Linked DNA regions of Homo sapiens: region 1 is linked to region 2. Evidence: fine-mapped expression QTL. A gene starts in region 2. The other region holds a variant in brackets. All regions are shown on one strand. Distances are between the middles of the regions.

What was found. PIP is the estimated chance that this variant, and not a neighbour inherited with it, causes the effect.
Region 1: its variant is fine-mapped to the expression of RNF111 in whole blood (TOPMed, PIP above 0.99).

Annotation. Positions count from the first base shown.
Region 1 is chr15:59,519,757-59,532,546 of GRCh38, forward strand. FAM81A (family with sequence similarity 81 member A) reads left to right here. Exons shown (of 9, transcript NM_152450.3): 9 at 1,498-3,799. The coding sequence ends at 1,622. It also overlaps the pseudogene RPL21P114. Among named protein-coding and RNA genes, the nearest start is that of GCNT3, 86 kb to the right of the region's middle. The variant A/C (reference allele first, on the strand shown) is at 4,733.
Region 2 is chr15:58,980,496-58,993,285 of GRCh38, forward strand. It overlaps RNF111 (ring finger protein 111), which reads left to right and starts at 7,168. Exons shown (of 14, transcript NM_017610.8): 1 at 7,168-7,573. RefSeq lists a silencer at 7,887-8,051 and an enhancer at 10,615-11,114.

The DNA.
Region 1 (12,790 bases), 540 kb after region 2:
GAATAATATTCATCATTTGTATATATACACAATTTCTTTATTCACTAATTTTTTGATGGACACACTTCAGTTGTTTCCATATCTTGGCTATTGTAAATAATGGTGCAGTGAACAGGGGAGTGCAGATATCTTTATGAGGCAGTAATTTAATTTCTTTTGGGAATATACCCAGTAGTGAGATTGCTGGGTCGTATGGTAGTTCTATTTTAAATTTCTTTAGTAACCTCTATACCAAGCTTGTCCAACCCACATCCCGCAGGCCACATGCGACCCAGGATGGCTTTGAATGCAGCCTAACCCAAATTCGTAAACTTTCTTAAAACATTATGAGATTTTTTTGTGATTTTTTTTTTTAAATCACTCATCAGCTATCATTAGTGTTAGTGTATTTGTATTGCCCAAGACAATTCTTTCAGTGTGGCCCAAGGAAGCTGAAAGTTTGGATACCCCTGCCCTATACTGTTTTCCACTATGGCTGCCCCATCCTGCATTCCCACCAACAGTGTACAAGTGTTCCCCTTTCTTCACACCCTCGCTAATGCTTGTACTCGTTTGTCTTTTTGATAATAGCCATCCTAACAGGTGTGAGGTGATAACTCATTGTGGTTTTAATTTGTATTTTTCCTATAATTAGTGATGTTGGCCCTTCAGGTTCTAATCCAGAATTACACATCGTATTTAGTTGTCATGTTTCTTTATTTAGTCTCTATTAATCTGGATCAGTTTCTCAGTGATGTTGACCTTTTTAAAGAATACCAGCCAGCCAGCATTTTGTAGACTATCCCTAGTTTAGATTTGTTTGCTTCATTTTTTTTTTTTTTTTTTTGAGACGAGTCTTGCTCTGTCGCCGAGGCTGGAGTGCAGTAGCACAATCTCAGCTCACTGCAACGTCCGCTTCCTGGGTTCAAGCAATTCTCCCTGCCTCAGCCTCCCGAGTAGCTGGGACTACAGGTGTGCGCCACCATACCCAGCTAATTTTTGTATTTTTAGTAGAGACAGGGTTTCGCCGTGTTGGCCAGGCTGGCTCGAACTCCTGACCTCAGGTGATCCATCCGCCTTGGCCTCCCAAAGTGCTGGGATTACTGGCATGAGCCACCGTACCAGGCCTGTTTGCTTCATCTTGATATAATTTAGGTTGTGTATTTTGGTATTCTTTAAAAATGTCAAGAAGTGATGTTGTGCCCTGCTCAGGGTATCTTTTCAGAAGTTACGTGATGTTGTTTCTCCCAGTATGGGTGACGTGAGATTTGATCACTTGGTTAAAGGGGTATATGACAGTCTTCTCCATTGTAATAGTTCCTTTTTCCTTTTTGTAATTAAAAAGTAATCTCTAGGGAGAAACTAGAAACTCACCTGTTCCCCATCATACTTTCATCCCAGAGGTTTTAGCATCTATTAATAATTTTTGCCTGAATCAACCATTACTAGATACTATAGAATTTGATACAGCATTTTAAAAAAATTGTTAACTGTTGTGAAATTTACCTCTCCTTCAAGGGTTTACAGCCGTCTATGAAAGCATAGGATCCCTCAGGCAAGTTCTCGAGGCCAAGATGAAGCTGGACAGGGACCAGCTACAGAAGCAAATCCAGCTGATGCAGAAGCCAGAGACCCCCATGTGAAGGGAGCTGGGACAAGGTCCTAAAAGACAGTTTTGCCAGTGGGGCTAGGAGCCGGATACCTCTGTAGCCAGGCCATCGCTGCATTCAGGATTGTTCCATCCATGGCGTGCATGTGCCAAGAAATGTGTTTTTATGGGTCTAAATGTTTACCTTGAGTCTTGAAAATACTCTTTTGTTAAAAGTATGAAATACAGTTTTTACCAGTTTATTTCACTTCTCTAAATTCAATGGAAATCCCCCGCCCTGGATTTTGAAAGGCTTTTATCTTCTTCATTTTACGAATGGAAAGACGACAATTTTTCTTCAATGCTTGATGCACTAATGAAGACTGTTTACTATTTTGAAAAATGTCATGGGGATTTTTTTTTAATTAAGAAACTAATGAATCATCACAGGAATGTGTTGCTCCTCACCCTAAATTAAGAGAATGTCCCAGTAGATTAGACTTCAACCTTTGAGTCCAATTTGGATTTTATTATCGTTGTCTATGCACTTCTTATATTGGTTATCTTCTTGTAAATCTTCTGTCTTTTGTAAGGGGAAAGGATTTAACATTTAGAATAAACCCCACCATTTATGTAATGGAAATAGTTTAAAAATTGCTAACTGCCATGTGGATTGCAAATTAAATGGAAACTTATTTAGATAACGTAAGGCTCAATATCTGCGTTGACCACCTAGATATTACAGGTTTTAATATTTAAAACTATTTTTGAATTATCCACAACCTGTATAGTGATAGCCATATATTTAATAATGGAATGGTGGTTAACAGTCTATTTACTGCACAATTAATTGTTCACTAATCAAATAGAATGTGGTAATTTTTCAGACTTTATGATCTGTTTCCAAAATTGGCACAAAGTGCTAGGGTTTATATACACTTATCGTAACTGTATTTTTGTGCCTTGGTTTTATCATGTCAATGCACTGTACTCTGTAAAAGTTTTGCAGACAAAATAGAAAGTATGATAATCCGTCAGAAGTATGATGTAAAACTGGAATCCTCTGTATTTTTTAAATGTTCTAAAAATTTTATCGCTGTTAAGGTATTAATCATTCAGTATTACTAATGGAATAGAAATTCATACTTTTGTATGGACAACAATTCAAATTGATATTGCATTTATAGCACTGTAAGAAACTTTCATCTTGAGCAACTTTGTAGATGATGGGTGTTTTATTTTCAATCGCCATATTTGATCAGTCATTGAAAATTGGCCCCAGTGCTGTTTGTTCATCTCTGTATGTAAAAACTGACAGTGAGACACAACGTTCTGAACTGTGAGGGTGTCCCAGGAAAAAGAAAAACAGGAATACTTTAACAATTAAAAAGAAAAAAATGTTTTTTGTTTGCCAAGGACTCAGGAAAATAAAAAGCATTTTCTATTTTTAGGACAAATCACAAATGAAGTGTCTAACTGGCTATTACTGTTTACCCATATAAAATATGCTGCTAAAGTACATATTTTGCTGTCAATGGCTTGACAATTTTTTTTTTCAAATTTGGACATGAGAGGTTATATAGGGACTATATTATCCAACACATATTTTCTTATTTTGCCACAAATTTCCACTTAACAAATAAAAAAAGGCGAATGCTGTTTTGCAATCAGAAAGTGAATTTCTTTTGTGGTAGCGTACACGTGGTTCATGTGGTTCTCCACGTTTAAGCACAAACCACAGCACAGGAAGCCACACCCCCTCCAGCATCTCTGTCTTGTGGGGTCTTTGAGGAGAAGGAATCAGAACATCGACACCTGGGAAGAGGGAGGCGGGGAACACCAGCTGGACTCTGGCCAAGGAGTGATGTAAGCAGGTGACACTTGGCTGTCAGCTGAGCTTCTCAGGTGCTTCTGACATTGCCAGCCCCTTGAGATGAGCCACCGCAGGTGTGCTCACCTTGGCTACATGTTGAAATCATCCAGAGGAGTTGGGAAATCTACTGATGCCCCGCTGTGCCTCCCAGACCGATTAAGTCAGAACCTCTGGGAGGTGGGTCGCAGGCATCAGTGCGTGCCCGAGGCCTCCGCGTGTTTGGGTGTGCAGCCGAGGTGGTGAGCTGTCGAGCCACAGTGCAGTTCTCTTCTCACCAAAGCTCAAATGAGAATCAGCTTCCATGTTCTTTCCTTTACCAGAAATTTGCAATAAAAAGAAAAATAAAATTTTCACATAAATGTGGTGTATGATTTTTAAATTGAAAAGTCTTTCAGTGTTGAGCTGAAGACTTAATTAGGTAAAATGCCATAGGAAATATTTCTGTTTGCTCTCTGTGGAAACGCTTTGATGGTTGAAATAAAGTGCTCAAGTCCTGGCAGCTCCTCTGACGACTGGAATGTCATTGGGAGCTGCTGGTCTGTGGGCTTCGGGGCTGTAGGGCCTTCTCTGCAGCCTTCTTGTCTCTTGGCAGTTCTCGGGTGTGTGCTGTGTGCCTGTGCTGTGTCCCCTGTGTATGTCAACTCTTTTCATTTTAACTAGTTGAGTTCAATACCATTTCCCCATTTTACAGATGAGAAAACAGAGTCACCTAAAGGTTAAGCAACTTGCCCCAAGTCCTATAGCTGATAAATGGGAGCCATGATTCAAGCCAGGCCGCCTACTTCCGCACTCTGGGAGCCTTACCAGCATACCACACTACCTCCGAAGACATTTTGGCTTCCCACATAAGTGACTTGCTAGGCCACTGACATCAGCCATATCTATATGAGCTTGGCCTCCTGCCATCTGACTACCCTCGCTTTTTAATGCCCCGATTCCAAATACGTAATGAGGCAATCTAATTAGCTTGTCAAACGTCTTCCCCTGGCTGTATCAATGTGGAGGCACCAGAGGTGGGGGGCAGTTGGTGCCACAGGACTTGTAGGATCACAGGCATTTCATCCCCTGCACTTGGGCTGTCCTAGGTCGTGGTCCCTGGCTGGCTCTGCACATCGGGAGATGGATTGTGTAGGGGAGTGTAGAGCAGAACAGAGAAGATGGCTCCGTTCAAGTTGTAATTATCCCACTAGGCTTTCAGGGGGAAAAAGAATCACAAAGCACTGTGACATCAGTCCCTTGCTCTGCCACACAGCCCTCCTGACAGGTTGTTTACAACACAGCAGCTTGCTTCC[A/C]CCAGTACCAGTGAGAGAGAGGGTGAACGGGAAGGAAGCTAGTCTTTTGTAACCTAATCTCAGAAGTGACAAGCCACCACTTCCACTAGTCTCTTCATGAAAAGCAAGTCCAGCACACACACAGCGGGAGGGGATCACACAAGGGGCTGAACACCTGGGGATGGGGTCACTGGGGGACATTTTACCGACTTCCTGCTCCAGCCGGAATCTGGACTCTGAGTCTCAGTCAGGTGGGCCTGCAGTGCAGTGTCTACTCTATAAAAGGATACTGCTGAGGTCCTTTAGCTCTGGATTTATAGGGACGACAAAATAACTTTTTGAGATGAACTGAACCAAAAATGGCCCAAGATGAATTGACAATTTCCAATAGACATGTGAGGGAGCTTAGAAGTGGAGCTCCCTACCCAAAAGAAATGAAAGTGGGGAATCGGGTATGTGTACATGTGGGCATGGTGGCTTACGCCTGTAATCCCAACACTTTGGGAGGCTGAGGTGGGCGGATCACCTGAGGTCAGGAGTTCAAGACCAGCCTGGCCAACATGGTGAAACCCCCATCTCTACAAAAAACACAAAAATTAGCCGGGCGTGGTGGCACATGTCTGTAATCCCAGCTACTCGGGAGGCTGAGGCAGGAGAATTGCCTGAACCTGGGAGGCAGAGGTTGCAGTGAGCCGAGATCACGCCACTGCACTCCAGCCTGGGCAGCAGAGTGAGAGTCTGTCTCAAAAAAAAAAAGAAAAGAAGTGAAAACTCTCAGGCTCCACCAAGACCTACTGAATCAGAGGCTCTGAGACGGACGCACCAAATTGCTTCAAGTCCTGCAGGTGATTGTAATGTAAAATCTGAGGCTTGCTGCACTAATAAGTAGCCACTAATTACATGGATTTTTTTTTAACAGTCAAGAGGTCCTTAATTTTTTGGCACCTATTGTGCCATAAATTCATAGGGAACAGGTTCCAGCAGCTCAGGCCCTCTTCTGTTGGTTCACTAAGTGTGCTTCTCTGCGTAGAGCAGGCTGGTGCTTCAGCGGAACCCAGGTACGTTTCTCTTTGGGTTCCTTCGTTTTCTGATCGTTTTCCTTCCGCGTTTAGGAAACTATCTTGGCTCTTTAAGTACTTCATATGCTCAACATATACAGTAATTCTCTTGGCTAGAATATTGTTTGTTTACAGAAATGCCAATAGCATGCTGGGTAGCACTGTAGACTTCCAGCTTTGCCATGGTAACATTTGTGAGGTATTCCTTTTTGAACAGTACCCATTCCCTTGATGTCTACAACATCTCCCTTCTTGTAGATTCACGTGTGTGTGTCCAAAGGAACAACTCCATGCATTCTAAAAGGCCCAGGGAACAGAGAGCAGGTGCTTCTCCTCATTCCCTTTTTTTTCATCATTTAGGCAAATGATTAGAAGATGGTGGTTCCAGCCAAAAGAAAATATGTGGTCATTGGCCGGGCACAGTGGCTCAGGCCTGTAATCCCAGCACTTTGGGAGGCCGAGGCAGGCGGATCACGAAGTCAGGAGATCGAGACCATCCTGGCTAACACGGTGAAACCCCATCTCTACTAAAAATACAAAAAATTAGCCGGGTGTGGTTGCGGGCGCCTGTAGTCCCAGCTGCTCGGGAGGCTGAGGCAGGAGAATGGCGTGAACCCAGGAGGCGGAAGTTGCAGTGAGCCGAGATTGTGCCATTGCACTCCAGCCTGGGCGACAGAGCGAAACTCCATCTCAAAAAAAAAAAAAAAAAAAAGGAAAAAAAAAAGAAAATATGTGGTCATTTAAATCAATTAAATGTAAATATAAATTCATCAGAATTAGATATGTCTTAACATTTAGTTTCTTAGTTGCACTAGCCACATTTCAAGCGCTCAGTAGCCTCCCATGGTTGGTGCCTACTGTATTGCCTGTGCGAATGTGGAAGAGTTCTGTAACTGCAGAAATTTCTACTGGATGGTCCTCAAAGTGTCCGCAGACCAGCAGCATCTAGAGCAATAGTTACCTCACTCTTTCAACGTACAGCCTGATATAGTTTGGCTGTGTCCCCACCCAAATCTCATCTTGAATTGTAGCTCCCATCATTCCCATGTGTCTTGGGAGGGACCTGGTGGGAGGTAATTGAATCATGGGGGCCGGTTTTTCCCCTGTTGTTCTCGTGATAGGGAATAAGGCTCATGAGATCTGATGGTTTTATAAAGGGGAGTTCCCCTGCACACACACTCTTGGCTGATGCCATGTAAGACGTGACTTTGCTCCTCATGCGCCTTACGCCATGACTGTGAGGCCTCCCCAGCCATGTGGAACTGTGAGTCCATTAAACCTCTTTCCTTTATAAATTACCCAGTCTCAGGTATGTATTTATTAGCAGCATGAGAACAGACTAATACACAGCCCTATCTACAGCTCTGCACCATCATCTGTCAGCCTAAAATGAGCTTTGGAGCTGGAAATCCTCTCCAGTCTCATTCCTACAATATTATGTCAGTTGTCCCTGTTAGAATAATTTCCTAGGTCTTTATTTTTAAGATTTTATCTTTAAGCAAGATGAATAAACTCTAGAGATCTGGCCAGACATGGTGGCCCAAGCCTGTAATCCCAGCACTTTGGGAGGCCAAGTCAGGTAGATCACCTGAGGTCAGGAGTTTGAGACCAGCCTGGCCAACATGGTGAAACTCTGTCTCTACTAAAAATAAAAAAATTAGCCAGGCGTGGTGGCATGCACCTGTAATCCCAGCTACTCGGGAGGCTGAGGCAGGAGAATCACTTTAACCTGGGAGGCAGAGGTTGCAGTGAGCTGAGATCATGCCATTGCACTCCAGCCTGAGCGACAGAGCAAGACTCCATCTCAAAAAAACAAAACAAAACAAAACAAAACAAAACACAACTCTAGAGATCTGCCGTATAACATTGCACCTATAGTCAACAGCCATGTGTTATACACTTAAAACTTCGTTAAGAGGGTAGATCTCATGTTACATGTCCTTACCACAATAAATTTTTTAAAAAAGATTTTTATCTCATCTGTCAGTTCTGATCAGTAGATAGAGGTGCCTGGAGCACTGTGTTGGGAAGGATTTGGTGGCTGGCACCGGATGCAGGGGGAAGAGCCAGCCCAAGGCCGATGGGGTGGTGTCTTGTGAACTGTGGGTCTGCCAGGCTTGCCCTAGGGCATCCTGGGCATGTGGGATGCCTGGCAAGGGCTTGTTGGCCAGGGGAGTCCAGGGATTCTGATGCTCCCTAGTGAGGGGCCCCTCGCAGGTCTGGGATGAAGGTGAGTCACAGTGAGGCATTCACCTTGATAAATTTAGAGGGGCACCAAATACTCTAAGATTACAATATTTTAATGTAATATTTTAAAAGATCACCATTAATACTAAAAAATTCCAGATGAACAGGGCCAGGCGCGGTGGCTCACACCTGTAATCCTAGCACTTTGGGAGGCCAAGGCGGGCGGATCACGAGGTCAGGAGGTCAAGACCATCTGGCTAACACGGTGAAACCCCATCTCTACTAAAAAATACAAAAAATTAGCCGGGCGTGGTGGTGGGCGCCTGTAGTCCCAGCTACTCGGGAGGCTGAGGCAGGAGAATGATGCGAACCCGGGAGGCGGAGCTTGCAGTGAGCTGAGATCGTGCCACTGCACTCCAGCCTGGGCAACAGAGCGAGACTCTGTCTAAAAAAAAAAAAATTCCAGGTGAACAAAATATCAAATCTTAACTAAAGACCAGATCTGACTGTGCTATGTGGTGTCATTTTGGAATTGAGGCAAAAGACAAAGTATTTCTCTCTATATACATGTTTTTATGCAAAAATTGGACATATTTTTTGTGAGGGTTTTTTAATTTTGATTTTTAGAAATATTACATTAAAATATGATTTACTTGGTTATTGAGGTTTTGGTCTTCCCCTCTCCTTATCACTTTTTTTTTTTTTTTTTTTTAAAACAGGGTCTCCCTCTGTCACCCAGGCTGGAAGCTGTGGTGTGATCATAGCTCATAGCTCATTACAGCCTCAGTCTCCTGAGTAGCTAGGATTACAGGTGTGCACCACCATGCCTGGCTAATTAAAATTAAAAAAAAAATTTGTAGATATGGGGTCTTACTATGTTGCCCAGGCAGGTCTTAACTCCTGGCCTCCAGGAATCCTCCCAACTCAGCCTCCCAAAATGCTGGGATTACTGGTGTGAGCCACCACACCCGGCCTCTCCTTACCTTTTGCATTTGAGGCTGCTTTACCCTAATCCTGACCCTGCCCTGATATCTAGAAATTTGGAGCTAAATTCAGTGCTTAGTTTTTATAATTAGCTTATCTTGGGGGTATCTGATTGCTTTAGATGGTCTCTGGTCTGTTTTTATTTCTAATTACCATGCTTTGTTTAATTTTCAAACTTGTAGTTTAATTATTCTTTAAACCGACTTGGGCCACAGGTAAAGCAATGATCTGACTCTGAGCAGGTGTGACTCCTCTGAGACATGGAGGAAGAGAGGGCGGGGAGCGAAGATGTTTGCAGATTTCCAGCACTTAACTGCCAGCCGCCAGAGAAGTGCGAGGAGCTCTCCACAGCACTACCAGGCCCGCCCATGGGATTCACTGTCCTTTGCTGCCCCCACCTGGAGAGAATGAAAACTCCTAGGGAATCTGTTTCACTAGGGAGAACCCAGAACCAAGGAATGCCTCGGGAAAAGAGCCCTTGGAGATCATGAAACCGCTAGTGCAAAATTATAGCTGAGACAGCAAAAAAGATCTGACCTAGCCAACTCCATCTTGCTTCTAAGCTCCAAGCTGTCTTTGTTCATTCCTGGGCATAGGCTGAACTAAGTTTGGGAGGAACTTAGTTTCTTAAAACAAGGTGATTAACAGCCCTTTCCCAAAACAAACCGCCTTCTTGCCTGTATTTAATGATAAAATACAAGTTAAAGAAGATTTTTTTTTTTTTTTGAGACGGAGTCTCACTCTGTCACCCAGGCTGGAGTGCAGTAGTGCAATCTCGGCTCACTGTAGTCTCCACCTCCCAGGTTTCAGCCATTCTCCTGTCTCACCCTCCCCAATAGCCGGGACTACAGGCATGAGCCACCACTCCTAGCTAATTTTTGCATTTTTAGCAGAGAGGGAGTTTTGCCATGTTGGCCAGGCTGGTCTGGAACTCCTGACCTCAAGTGATCTGCCTGCCTTAGCCTCTCAAAGTGCTGGGAATGCGGGTGTAAGCTACTGTGCCCGGCCAAAGATATATTTTTAAGCAAAAATTGTTTAAAGCTGATTTTAATGTTTAAAATGTACCTACATCTTGGCCTGGTGCTGTGGCTGACACCTGTAATCCCAGCACTTTGGGAGGCTAAGGCAAGCAGATCACTTGAACTCAGGAGTTCAATACCAGCCTGTGCAACAAGGTGAGATTTAGTCTTAGCTACTCTGGGGACTCAGGTGGGAGGCTCACTGAGCCCAGGAGGTCGAGGCTGCAGTAAGCTGAGACTACCCCAATGCACTCCAGCGTGGGTGGCAAAGTGAGACCTAGTTTCAAAAAATAAATAAATAAAAATAAAAGTTTACCTACATCTTATTAAATATGGTTTGTTTTTGGGTTTTTTTTGTTGTTGTTGCTTTTTGTTTGCTTGTTTGTTTGTTTTTTGAGATGGAGTCTTGCTCTGTTGCCAGGCTGGAGTGCAGTGGTGTGATCTCGGCTCACTGCAATCTCTGACTCCCTGGTTCAAGCTATTCTCCTGCCTCAGCCTCCTGAGTAGCTGGGATTACAGGCATGTGCCAGTACGCCCAGATAATTTTTGTATTTTTAGTAGAGACAGGGTTTCACTATGTTGGCTAGGATGATCTTGATCTCCTGATCTTGTGATTTGCCAGCCTCGGCCTCCCAAAGTGCTGGGATTACAGGCGTAAGCCACCACGCCTGGCCATCTTATTATTATTATTTTGAGACTGAGTCTCTCTCTGTCACCTAGGCTGGAGTGCAGTGGCGCGACCTCGGCTCTCTGCAACCTCCGCCTCCCGGGTTCAAGCGATTCTCCTGCCTCAGCCTCCTGAGTAGCTGGGATTACAGGTGAGTGCCACCATGCCCGGCTAATTTTTGTATTTTTAGTAGAGACAGGGTTTCACCATGTTGGTCAGGTTGGTCTCAAACTCCTGACCTCGTGATCCCCCCACCTCGGCCTCCCAAAGTGCTGGGATTACAGGCGTGAGCCACCACACCTGGCCATCTTATTAAATATTTTTTATAAAAATAAGCCTATTTATGATTCAGGCATTCAATGTCCATCTAGTTGCCAATGTGTTGTCCTTTCAGCCACGTGGCTAATAGGGGCTTCCTGCTCTTATAATCTCTGGATGACTCATTATCTCCTGGTTGGCTTCTCAGTTTCCATAATGTGGGTGACCAATTCCCTTTATTAAATTATCTGTGTTTGGAATACCTAGGGAGGATTCTGTTTTCTTGAATGGACCCTAACTGACGTAATGCTTAAGGAGAGTAATTTGCTTCTGTAGCTATCACACTGTTTCTCCATAGCACCTATCTGCTTTTCCTTTGGTGCTGTGTGGCTCTCGTGTTCTAATAAACCAATACCCTCTAGGGCTAGCTAAGGCTTTTTGAGTACCCGACATTGTGCTAGGTGCTCATCCCTGTGTCCGCGAACAAGTCCTGGACAGAGCAGACCCTTGTCCTTGCCACAGGCACCTGCTGGTCCATCACTTCCTCTGGCCTCACCCAGGAACCCTCTGGCCTAGAGTTTACCTGTCTAGCAGCTGCTGTGCTGCTGCCCAAACCATGTTGGGCGGGACCAAATGCCGGGTGTCTTTAGTAAGTCTTCACCTTCCCTCTTCCTCCTACAAGGTTCTCAGCTACCTCCAGCCTACCTGGGCATTTTTACCAGTTTGTCCACTGCAGAGTTTCACCTCAAGAGGAAGAAAAGGGAGAACACGTTTGTCAACGTTCCTTTCTCCTCCCCACACTCCACTTGTGTGAAAAAGAGAACCGGCTTTCTATTTCTGCTTCCTCTCTAGGGTGGCCTTCTCGCTGTCATTTCTTCCTTTCTAGGGGGATGAGGGAGCCTTAAGTCCCTTAATGGTAGCAGGAGTATTCCTTCTGCATCATGGAAGTGAGTTTGTCATCTGACTTAGGCTTAGAGTTAGTGACTCTGACACAGTTCTAGGAGCCAAAGGAACTTAGAAAATTCTTTCATGACAAAGCCTGGCTTTTAAGACTATCGTCTTTCTGTGCTTTCCAGGTATCTATTCTGAATTTCAAAACTGAATATGGACTGCGTCCTCTTTGAGTTCCTGTTGTAACAGTCCTAGTTCCCTCTTGGGCAAATGGATGCCTCTGCAGAAGACGGGGCAAGTCAGGGGGAGGACAAGGAAATGCAAGGGACACCAGCAAATTAGTAAATTTCAAAACTATTGTTTCCATTAACTACACATGGGTGTCTTCTCCCTAAACTGTGATCTACTTGAAGGCAGGATTACATTTTCCCCAATATTTAAAAAAATATCTATGAGAAGTCAGGTGCTAATCGTGAAAGCACTTGCAGGTTAACTAAGGTCTCAGGTGTCCTTATGTTGTCTCATATTATGACAGCTCTTTATAGTGCGTCCCACACCCATTAGATCACTTAACGATAGTTCCAGATGGGTTAAAGTCTCTGATTAATGAGAAATAGAGGCCGGGTGTGGTGGCTTATGCCTGTAATCCCAGCACTTTGGAAGGGCAGATCAGTTGAGTTCAGGAGTTCACGACCACCCTGGCCAACATGGTGAAACCCCGTCTCTACTAAAAATACAAAAATTAGCTGGGTGTGGCAGAGGGCGCTGGTAATCCCAGCTACTTGGCAGGCTGAGGCAGGAAAATTGTTTGAACCTGGGAGGTGGAGGTTGCCGTGAGCCAGGATCGTGCCACTGCACTCCAGCCTGGGTGACAGAGTGAGACCCTATTTCAAAAAAAAGGAGAAATAGAATAAATTGATAAATCGATTAATGCGCTGTTATTAACTGATCTTTGTAAAACGTCTATGTTTGGGGGTAAAACACTAAAAAAAAGGCAGGGGGACAGGGTGTAGTG
Region 2 (12,790 bases):
AATGAACTTAATGTTGAGATGTTTAAGCAATTTTGATTCAGTAGGTGGCACTCTTTCCTAGTTTAACTCAATTCTAAATTGTGAACGGTTTGAAAATAGATTTTTCTTATCGGTATAATTTAAATAGATTGGGTTTCAGAGTTTCGTGATTGTCAACCTTAATCACTTGATATTTTCAGAATTTAAAAATACTTAAGCAAATTTTAAAATTAAGATATTAAACTAAAATCTCTAATATTTACAAATTTCTGTTGCATAATAGTGATTTATGTTCTGTCAAAAGTCAAAAATAATTACAATCTTATCAGAAGCCCTGACTGCTAAAGGTGTTTGGATTCAAGTTATCGAATAAATTTTTAAAATTCCCTTTTAGCACATGGGCACTTTCATTTTATTCTCTTTCTTCTTCTTCTTCTATATCTTTATCTCTGAACAGTCCCCCAATATATCAGTGTTTTTAATGTACTGTATAATAATTTTTTTCTTTCTTTTTTTTTTTTTGAAACATGGTCTCACTGTGTTGCCCTGGCTGGAGTGTAGTGGCTATTCACAGTCACGTTCATAGCACATTGCAGCCCTGAGTACCTGGGCTCCAGTGATCCTCCTGCCTCAGCCTCCTGAGAACAATGTACTATATAATCTTTCAACTGAGCAAAGCACAGTCTCTGCAATCCTGTAACTTAAAATCATAATCAAGTATTAGTTTGTGCAATTAAAACTAATACTAATGTAGTTTAGAGAAACTTTTAAATGATTTTGGAAAACTTTGCATGATCTGTAAATAATAACAAGCAAATGCATCAAAGTGTCTTTACTTCCTGTTCTGAATTTGCAACTAAGTAGCCAGTATGTAAATCACACTTGAAATTGTAATATAGCGTTCTCATAAATCTAATTAGGTCTGAAGCAAAATATGAAATGTTAGAACTTTAAGGCACTTTGGAGGTTATCCAGTCTAACTTTTCAATGATCAGAAACTTTTGTTTTTTTTGAGATAGGTCCCACTCTGTCACCCAGGCTGGAGTGCAGTGACGTGTTCATAGTTCACTGCAGCCTAAATCTCCCAGGCTCAAGTGATTCTCCTGTCTCAGCCTCCTGAGTAGCTGGGACTACAGGCACATGCCATAATGTCCTGCTAATTTTTTTGGATTTTTAGTAGAGATGGAGCCTCACTATTTTGCCCAGGCCGGTCTTGAACTCCTAGGTTCAAGTGATTGTCCCAACTTAGCCTCCCAAAGCACTTAGATTACAGATGTGAGTCCCTGCACCTGGCCAGAAACTTGTAATTGTAAAAAAGATTGCTAATAGAGGTGAGCGCATTAAAAATTCTGAATTTTAAAAGCGACATTGCAAAAGCATTTCAAGAGTTAACAACAACTTAATGAAAATGCTCACTGGTAAACCTCTGACTAACTTTAACCAAGTGTGTAAAAATATTGGTAATTAAAAGACTAAACTATTTCTGAGAATGGTTATCAGTCAGTTGGAAATCCTTGCTTGTGGTTCTAGGCTTACATTACCAATGGTGAATGGCAGCTTTCACTTTCATTTTTCTACACTTTTATCTTAAAAATATACTTTCACAGAATGAGAGAGCCTCAGACATGCCCAGAATTTGGCCTGATAACCAGAAACATATCATGATATTTGAAGTTTTGCTCATCTGCAAAATTCCAGGCATTCTGTGTCCCCTGGTTAGTCCATAATTTGTTACCTCTGTTTTTTAGAAACAGAGTCACAGAGATAGTATTAGTTATTGAGTCGTCTTCTTCTTCTTCTTCTTCTTCTTCTTCTTCTTCTTCTTCTTCTTCTTCTTCTTCCTCTTCCTCTCCTTCTCCTTCTCCTTCTCCTTCTCCTTCTTCTTCTGACAGAGTCTTGCTCTGTTCGGCATGATCTTGGCTCACTGCAACCTCCGCCTCCTGGGTTCAAGCAATTCTCCTGTTTCAGCCTCCCAAGTAGCTGGGATTACAGGCGTGTGCCCAGCTAATTTCTTTGTGTTTTTAGTAGAGACGGGGTTTCACCATGTTGGCCAGCCAAGTCTCGAACTCCCAGCCTCAGGTGATCCAACCACCTCGGCCTCCCAAAATGCTGGGATTACAGGCATGAGCCACTGCGCCTGGCCTCTTGATATTTCAAATATATCTTGAAAGTTGCCTTCCAAAGAAAATTGTAAATTTATTAGTTGATAAGTACTCATCACAAAGGTATTGTCTTTTGAGGTTATCCTTCTGCTAAATAGCTCCTCAATTTTTCAGAATCTATGATTGCATTGATTGCAAAACAGTTTAGTAGGATAAAGGGCTGTGTCTAATTACTATCTATCTGTTTCTATGTACATATAATAAAGATTATATAGTACTATATGTAGTATATGCTACATATATAATCTTTAAAAATAGTCTCTTTCCAATCACATAGCCTGAAATCATTTTTTATCTAGATACGTATTTTTTGAGGTGAAGTCTTGTTCTGTTGCCCAGGCTGGAGTGCAGTGGCACGATCTTGGCTCACTGCAACCTCCACCTCCTGGGCTCAAGCAATTGCCTGCCTCAGCCTCTTGAGTAGCTGGGATTACAGGTGCCTGCCACCATGTGCGGCTAATTTTTGTATTTTTAGTAGAGATGGGGTTTCACTATGTTGGCCAGGCTGGTCTCCAACTCTTGTCCTCAGGTGATCACCCTTTTCTGCCTCCCAAAGCGCTGGGATTACAGGGATGAGCCGCCACACCCAGCCCATATAGAAAATTTTAATGAGAACTGTGCTACCTCAACTAAATCAGCAGTTATGGAGTCTATAGCACTTTTCTTTCAGTTTTAAGTTCCAGTGATATCTTCATATGCCAAGAAGAAAATAAAATATTCTGAATCACGAAGTGTTCTGATTAGTTCATCTCTGAGATCCTTTTAATTATTTCCAAAGCTTTACATCTGAGGAAATAGTTCACTAAATACTTTCAAGAATTTCCCAAGATCTTCTAACTCTTGCATTACATCTTCAAACTTTTCTCCATTTCTTCCAAAGAGCTCACGAAGCTGACCACATAATTAGTTACTCTCACTTGCAGACTTTATACAGTTGTGAACTATGCAATGGATGATGGGCATACCAGTCTTTCCTTCTGACTTTGATAGTTTGTAGAAATTTTCTTATTACCCTTGATTGCAGGTAACTCACTAATTCAGCCCAGTATTTCCATGTTTAGACCAAACTCCTCAAATTCCTGTCAGGCAGTAGTTAGATTCTGCTGGCCCATATATGCAGACTAATTTGGTAAACATTATTTGGCTGCAGTTTGAGGAAAGCAGAATTTGGTTTGGAGTGCATTTGGAAAAACTTGATCTCTCCACAAGTGAGTAAAATTAATTTTCAGATATTTAAAGTGATTTGATTAAGGATTTCTGGTTTCTTCTGGCAAAATTGAGATTAGAATCCCAATCTTCTTATTCAGTACAGTTCAATAAATATTTGAGTGCTATTTTTCTACTTAAGAGAGAAAGACATTTTCTCTGATTTTAAGTTTTGAGACAGGTATGTATGTAAACAATCATAATACTTAGATGTATGTATAAAGCTTGAAGAGAGTACTAAAACTGGAGTAAGTCCATTTCAAGGGGTGGGGAGAGCGGTAAGGAAATGCTTCATGGAAGACGGCTTGGAGGAATGGGTAAGAATTTGTTAAGCAGATAAAGCATGGGTGGGAAATGTGGAGAAAGGGGGTGAATTTTGAGACAGAAGGAACTGTGCAAAGGCAGAGAGATGGAAAAAGAGAGACATATATCTACAAGAATATGGAGTTAAGATCGGGTGAGTCTTGAACCTTGCTGGTATTCTGAAGGGTAAGAAACAGTAGAAAAAGAGAGAGGAAAGATAATGGAAATAAAAAGATGGTCAGTTGAAGAAAGTTCTTATGTAGGCAGAGGAAATGAGATCCAAATCTCACATGGAAGAATTAGCCTTGGATAGGAGAAAGGATAGCCTTTCCACTGAAACATGTGAGAGGGAAGAAGTGAGATTGTACTAATGCAATTAGGTTTGTTAGCTTCATGGGGAAAATTGATAGTTATATAGGAATAATATATATATATATTCTTTTACATATATATTATATATTCTTATATATAACATATATTCTTTTATATATATAATATATATTATATATTCTTTTATATATATATTATATATATATATATATATTTTTTTTTTTTTTCCTGGAGAATTACAAGAAGTTTGAGAAGTCCACCGAGGTCCAGGAAGGGTCAGGGGACAGGATGGGAACTAGGGCTGGTATGAAGTGATACTGAAGAATCTGGATTTTGAAGGGCTTTATTTGTCATGCTAAGGATTTTTAACTTGAAGGTGATGGAGGATCATTGAAAGATTTAAGCAATTTAATGTCTAATCAGTTTCTGCCATACTCTAACTGTGGCTTAAGGTTGAGTTTGGGGTGGTGTGGTGACAGTGGTGGAAGCAGAAGCATAGAAATCAGAAAATTGTTATGTGTAAATTAGGTGAGAGCCGCTTCTCACCCGAATCTACCATTATTCTTCTAAATACAACTGCGTAACACCTGTCCCTTCAACCTCACTCCTCTTCTGCTCTGGGCTTTGATTTGTTGCCCTTCTGCCATTATGGTAGTGACTATTCTGATTTTTAAAATCTCTTCTAGTCACTCTCCGCCCAGCATTTTCCAAAGCTCATATGTTTATAGATGGCCCTACCTCATGTTTCATAAGGAAGTCAAGGTCATTCAGTGAACAAGCCCTCAATTTGCCCCCTGAAGCTAACATACCTAAACTGCAGTCTTCTTCCTTCTCACCTGTTTCAGTGGAAAGGCCATCCCTTCTCCTATCCAAGGCTAAATTTCCATCTGAGCTTTAAATCTCATTTCCTCTGGCTCCATAGGTATTTTTCTCCATTGCGCATCCCTTTATTTTCTTTATCTTTCCACTCCTTTTTTCTACTGACTCTTTTCCTTCAGCATCCCAACAGGGTTGAAGCCCTCACCCTTTTATTTCATCTGGGGTTTCTCAACTGCATTATTAACATTTTCGGCCAAAGAATTCTTTGTTGTGGAGAGGCCAGCATCCCTAGCCTCTATCCTAGTGGATAGATGCCAGTAGCCACGCCCCTCCTCCCTGAGTTGTAACAAACAGCAATGTCTCCGGATGTTGCTAAATCATCCCAGCTTCAGAACCACTGATTTAACCCAATATATCCAAAATATTATTTCAACATATAATAAATATTAAAAAGTACTGAGATTTTTCAGTCTTTTTTTGTATTGTACCTTTGAAATTCGATGTGTATTTTTCACTTAAAGCACTTCTCAATTATTTTTATTTATTTATTTTTTTAGGGAGACGGAAAAGGAAAAGGGGAGGGGAGAGGGAGAAGAGGAGGGAGTCTAGCCACATTTTAAGTGCTCAGCAGCCACATATGGCTGGTGTCTACCTAATTGAAGAACACAGGTCAAAAGCTTCAGAAAAAAGGTTAGAGCTGGAAATACAGGTTTGAGAAGTCATGAGATAGTAACAGTTAAAATCAAGGGAGAAGATAAGATAGTCCGGGCAAAATTCTATGTTTAAGAGTGAGAAAATAGGAGGATTGAGGAAAATCCTAGTCGAATGCTCTTTTAGTTTTCCCACACAATCTGCTATCCTTGATCATTATTGTAATTTTAAAATCATTTGTGTGTGTGTGTGTGTGTGTGTTTTGTTTGTTTGTTTGTTTGTTTGTTTTGAGACGGAATCTCACTCTGTCGCCCAGGCTGGAGTGCAGTGGCACAATCTCGCACTCACTACAACCTCTGCCTCCCGGGTCCTAGCAATTCTCCTGTGTCAGCCTCCCGAGTAGCTGGGGTTACAGGCGCCCGCCACTACGCCCGGCTAATTTTTTGTATTTTTAGTAGAGACAGCGTTTCACCGTGTTAGCCAGGATGGTCTCCATCTCCTGACCTCATGATCCGCCCGCCTTGGCCTCCAAAAGTGCTGGGATTACAGGCGTGAGCCACCGCGCCCAGCCTTTTTTTTTTTTTTCTTGGAGACGGAGTCTCCCTGTCACCCGGGCTGGGGTGCAATGGCTTGATCATGGCTCACTGCAACCTCGGCCACCCTGGCTCAAGCGATTCTCCTGCCTCAGCCTGCCGAGTAGCTGGGATTACAGGCGTCCGCCACCACGCCCAGCTAGTTTTTGTATTTTTAGTGGAGAAGGAGTTTCACCATGTTGGCCAGGCTGGTCTTGAACTCCTGATCTCAGGTAGTCCACCCGCCTAGGCCTCCCAAAGTGCTGGGATTACAGGCGTGAGCCACCGTGCCCGGCCAAAATCATTTGCTTACTGAATGATACGGAAAATATGAGTGAACAAAAAAAGTATTGAAAAAGATGAGTTGATGGCAAAGGGAGGGAATTAATGTTTAGTGAACACTTAATTGGCAAGTAATGTTCAGAGCATTATATAAATTGTCTCATTTAATCTAACAAGAACCTTTTGAGGTAAATACGTTATCCCAATTTATAGAGGAGGAAACTAAGATTTATAAGGATCTCATCAATCAGAGAACTCTTAAGTGGCACCACTGGACTTTGAAAGGAAGTCTGCCTGATGGACTCTGAAGCTCATCCTCTCTCTATCCTCCTAATGCATATAATGACGCATTTGTTATCTACTGACTTTTATAAAATAAACAAGGAGGCTTATGCGATTGTACAGCCCGAGTTCGCAGGAGATATGTGACCACTTTTGATCTGATTCCGGAAGCAAATTCACTTTAACAGTGAGGTGCCGTGATCTTTATGTCATTAGCGCATATGATATGGGTATCATTTGTTGTGAAAGACACTAACCCATGATGTTTTTGTTTACGTATATCTGTAAATGTATCAATTCTGTAGTTGGTTAATTTTTAGTTACGAAAAAATGAACCAAGATGTAGTCAAGATTTGGCTTAAATGTTGAACGCATAATCACCAAAGAAAATTAAATAATGAGCTTTGTGACACCTTTCAGTTCGCCAACAGACTGATAAAACCAGTACAAAGGGGGAGGGCCGGGACCGAGGGGGCGGGACGGTGAGAAACGGGAATCGAGCAAGCGCAGAAACAAACAGATGTTAATGGAGGCGTGAAGGCTACTGCGCTCTCACTTTCCGAACTGTCGTAAAGAGCCCTAGTGTCGTGCTCTCCTCGGTAGGGGAGGAATTGGTTAGGCGGCGGCGGCGGCGAAGCGGCGGCGGCGGCTGTAGGGGAGCAGCGGCAGTGGCGGCGACGGCGAGGAGGTGTTCGGTTTGCGCAGCGTAGAAACGCCCGCAGCTTCAGAGAAGGAGTTCTTGTGGGACCAAATTAGGCATTCTGAACCCACGCCGGCTTAGCTGGGCCGAGTCCAGGCGCTGCCGCACGTACAGTTTTGGTGGCGGTGACAGACACTGTTCTTGACTCTAGGGGCCTATTAGGCCGACGTCTGAGGCGCAGATCGCTGGCTCTCGACGCATTACTCTTTACGCCTTACATTTCTGTCTTCCTTCCTGGGTCAGTGATTCCCGGACCCTGGAAGAGAAGAGGGTGGCTAATGATTAAGGTGAGGGGAACGGGGGGGGAGGGGATCCATTGGAGGCCGCGCGTGCGCGCAACGGGGGAGGGGCCGGCCTGGAGGGGAGAAAGAGGAAGGGCTGCGGCCGCGGAAGGCTGGGGTCGGTGACCGGCCGGTTATCTCTGGCTCGGTGGTGACTTAGGGTCTGGGTCTCCGCAGACGATTTGTGTTTGGGCAAGGCATTCGTCTACCGACACACCCACAGCCTACAGTGAGGGAGTGTGGGTGAGGGGATTTCTCTCCCACTTCCGACTCTCCCTAGAGTCTCAGGATGGGGGCTGAGGACCGAGGCGTGGGAGTGCGATTTGACAATGGAGTGATGAAGGTAACCCGGACCCGGGGAGTTGGAGGGCGCTAAGTCAGCCCTGACGGCTAGGGAGTCGCCTGCTGCTGCTGTGATCAAGGAAACGTAGTCCGCGGAACAGCTGAAATACAGACGCGTCAGATTTTGTATGGAGTTGGCTTGTTGGTCATTTAAAAAGAAACTGATGTTTTTACTATTGTCCTTCGATAATTTATCAGAGTCAGTGTCAGTGCTATAGTGGGAATATCTGTTCAGTGCAGCAGAAATAGATTTGTTACAACAGTTCTTAAATAGGTTATAGTAGATAGATCTTTACAGATGGGTATTTCTCAACCTAAGTTTTGATTATTCAAAAAATACCAGAAAGTATGAGGTATTCATTTAATTTGTTCGTGTGTGTGTTGTGGGGTGACTCCATTGTGTTGTTGTAAGCTTTCCTGTTTCTTGATTTATGTGCGGCATTAATTTAGAATTCTCTTGAATGGTAAGATGCCAGCTGACATAGACTACGTTTTGTAGGATTTCCTGTAGCTTTTGAATGTGACTTAATCTAAACTTTATTTCATTTGGTATTTTATCTATAATTTTCTTGTTTTAGGGGCCTCTTGAACTAAAAAGAACAAACTGGGAAAAACATAAGCTAAGGTTCCATTTCCTTTCCCATTTTTGTTGTGTGTGTGTGTGATGGTTGTAAATGCTTGAATGTGATTTTGAGATTACCATACACAACTTCTGTAACGCTGGACTTAGCTTTATTACAGTAAAGATACATCTTTTGATAGTTTATTACTATATGTATTTTTGTAAAAATCTTCATGTCAGTATAAGCCACATTGTTTCACCCTAGTCTGGTTATATTTGTGAGGTGAAACAGATGGATAAGAAGGAAGCCCTTTTACTTTTACAATCATTTTAAATTGATTGTTTCTAAAGCCTTGATTTATCTTATTTTGGACACTTTCTTGCCATTTAACCTTGGACAAATGACTTTATCATCTCTCTCCTGCTCATTTGTTTGTGACCAAAGATTCACAACAGTATTCTAAGAATTGGTGAGGGTGTTTATAAATCTAAATAATATTTTAGGAAAAAGTAGGAAGAATGAGTCTCCTTGTTTATCACGGGTGCTATATCATGTGCAGATCCTTCTGTCACTTCTTAACTTTTGTTTGGTGTCTGTTGGCCACTTGTTTGCTAGTTATTTCACCAGACATAGAACTGGTTTTTAAAGAAAGGTATAAACAAAGTGACTTCATTTTGGTGAAAAATGCATTACAGCAGAGGTTACATCTTAACGAATTTCACTTTGGTACTCCATTTCTACAGATTATTGAGAGAGAGCTGTTGTGATGTTTAAGAGAAAAGCACCTTGCTTGTATAAAGCTAAGGTGCAGTCATTTAGCAGATACTCCTAGTTATTTTACTTTAAAATAAAAAATATAAAGGAAACTAATTGAATCAAACCATTTAGATTTTTAGATGTTTCCTTCTTTTTTTTTTTGTTATAGTTTAAAGAGAGGTTTCTGTATCATGCTTTACTTGAGGCATACTTATGTGCCCTTCTTTTGACTTTTTCTCCCCTTTTGGGCCAAGACTTCAGTAGGAAATAAAAGAGACCATCTGAAAAATGATAGCAGTTAAAATATGTTATAACTTGACATTACCGTTCTATGGGTAACGTTATCTTATGAAATAATATAGGGCTAAGGACAGGAGATCTAGATTTTAGATCTATCTTTGCTTGCTATACATTAGATCTCCGAGTTTATTGTTAACCCTCCTTGGGCTTCAGGTCTCTCTGTTTAAATGAGAATTGTAGAATAGATAACTTTCGTTTTCTTTAGGTCCCAAATTTAATGGTTTGTATATCTAGTTAGGTTTTTGGTATTCATTGTTGTGTTTGTCGTAATTGAATCCCCAGAAAGAAATGCTGTACAAAAAGCATCAATTCCCTCATGAAATGTGTATGTGTAAAACCTGTCATGAAGCTGTGGGCCAGGCGTGGTGGCTCACCCCTGTAATCCCAGCACTTTGGGAGGCCAAGGCGGGCGAATCACTTGAGGTGACCAGTCTGGCCAAAATGGTGAAACCCCATCTCTACTGAAAATACAAAAAATTAGCCGAGCTTAGTGGTGTGCGCCTGTAGTCCCAGCTGCCTGGGAAGCTGAGGCAGGAGAATGGCTTGAACCTCGGAGGCGGAGGTTGCAGTAAGCGGAGATCGTGCCACTCACTGCACTCCAGCTTGGGCGACAGAGCGAGACTGTTTCTCAAAACAAACAAACAAAAAAACTATGATTGTTGTTCCACATATTATTGCTATTGTTGTCCCATTGTAGATATTAATTACTGAAGCTTTAATAGCTTTCAGATGGTACTAAAAATGAAATTTTTTATTACTCCTGGTAACATTTTAAAAATCATCTGGAATAATTTGTTTTTCTTTCAGAAACCTGTAATTATTGTTCAGTAAAAGTCCACAATTACATTTGAATGTCTTATACCTCTGTTTGTTTCTTTCCTACATCCTACAGATTCTTGGTAACAGCTGGCCCAGGTTTCTACAGGTACTCAATTTATATCATTACATGAGGAGTGAATTACAAATATTTAAAGACAAATACTTAGCTGAGGCTGGGTGCGCTTGCTCATACCTGTAATCCCAGCACTTTGGGAAGCCGAGGCGGGTAGATCATGAGGTCGGGTTCGAGAGCAGCCAGGCCAACATGGTGAAACCCCGTCTGTACTAAAAAAAAAATACAAAAATTAGCTGGGCATGGTGGTGGCATGCGCCTGTAATCCTGGCTGCTCAAGAGGGTAAGGCAGAATTGCTTGAACCCGGGAGGTGGAGGTTCCACTGAGCTGAGATCTGCACTCCAGCCTGGGTGACAGAGCAAGACTCCATCTTGAAAAAAAACAAAACAACAAAAAAGCCTCCAAATACTTAGCTGAGCTTACATTTTAAAGAGCGGTACTGCATTATTACGTAGATACATTTATTGAATGTCTCATGTTCTAGGCACAGTCACTGGTCTTCAGTGAAGGCACTCTGCCTTCATGGAGCTGACATTCTGTTCTGTGTGTGGGAACATAATAAACAGAATGGTTTCAGGTAGTGGTAAGTGCCATGAGGAAAATAGGACCATGTGATACGGCATGGATGGAAGTGGTTTTACTGTAGATTGAGTGGTTAGGGAGGGCCTTTTTAGAGGTGGTAATTTGACCTGTGACTTCAATGACTAGAAAAAATCAGCCATAGTGACGATTTGGAGGAAGACTGCTACAGATAGCAGGGGCGGCAAATGCATTAGGTGAGGTTTGATTCTAGAGAATCTACAAATGTAAATTAATTATTTGGTTTGTCTGTTAAGCTTTTCATATTTGCTGTCAGATGATGTAGACAGATTAAAATTATTTTATGTGTAGTAACCAAATACAATATGTTGGTGTTGTTTAAACCCTGACTCAAACCAATTGTAGAAAGTCATTTTTGAAACATTGGGGGAAATCTGAATATGGATGGGTATTAGATGATATCAAGGAGTTATTGTAACTTTGTTAGGGATGATAATGGCATTATGTTTATGTAAGAAAATGACCACTTTTTATTAGTGATAGAGACTGAGGAATGAGGGAGAAAACTTGCAAATGTCTGGTATTTTATTTTATTTTATTTTATTTTGAGATGGAGTTTCCCTCGTTGCCCAAGCTGGAGTGCAGTGGTGTGATCTCAGCTCACTGAAGCCTCCACCTCCCGGGTTCAAGCAATTCTTCTGCGTCAGTCTCCTGAGTAGCTGGGATTACAGGAGCGCGCCACCACGCCTGCTAACTTTTTGTATTTTTAGTAGAAACGGTTTTTCACCATGTTAGCCAGGCTGGTCTTGAACTCGTGATCTCAGGTGATTCGCCCGTCTCGGCCTCCCAAAGTGCTGGGATTACAGACGTGGGCCACCGTGCCCAGCAATGTCTGTTATTTTAAACAGATACCAGATAAAAACCAAAAAATGTGGTGGAGGGAGATAAGATAGATGAAGCAGGTCTGGCACAATCTGGATAATTGTTGGGTTGGGGTGATGGGTACATGGGTATTAATAATATTGTTCTCTGCTTTTGTGAGGTTTGAAAATTGTTCATATTTTAAAATATATTTTTTTGGCTGGGCCCAGTGGCTCATGCCTGTAATCATAGCACCTTGGGAGGCTGAGGAAGGTGGATTGCTTGAGCCCAGGAGTTTGAGACTAGGCTGGGCAATGTGACGAAATTCTGGCTGTACCAAAAAAATACAAAAATTAGACAGGCATAATGGCACATGCCTGTAGTCCCAGCTACTCGGGAGGCTGAGGTGAGAGGATGGCTTGAGCCCGGGAGGCAGAGGTTGCAATGAGCCGAGATTGTGCCACTGCATTCCAGCCTCGGTGACAAAGCCAGACCCTATCTCAAAATAAATAAGTAAATGAAATAAAATAAAATAATATATTTTTGAAAACGTTCATTCATGTTTAGGCTGGACATGGTGGTGCACACCTGTAGTAATCCTAGCACTTTGGGAGGCTGAGGCAGGCGGATCACCTGAGGTCAGGAGTTTGAGACCAGCCTGCCCAACGTGGCAAAACCCTGTCTCTACTAAAAAATACAAAAAGTAGCCGGGCATGGTGGCGGGTGCTTGTAATCCCAGCTACTTGGGAGGTTGAGGCAGGAGAATGACTTGAACCCAGGAGGCAGAGGTTGCAGTGAGCCAAGATTGCGCCACTGCCCTTCAGTCTGGGTGACAGAGCAAGATTCCATCTCAAAAAAAAGAAAATGTTCAATTGTAAATAAAAATGTTTTAAAATAATTAGTAAAAGTGGCCAGGTATAGTGGCTCACACCTGTAATCCCAGAACTTTGGGAGGCCAAGGCGAGTGG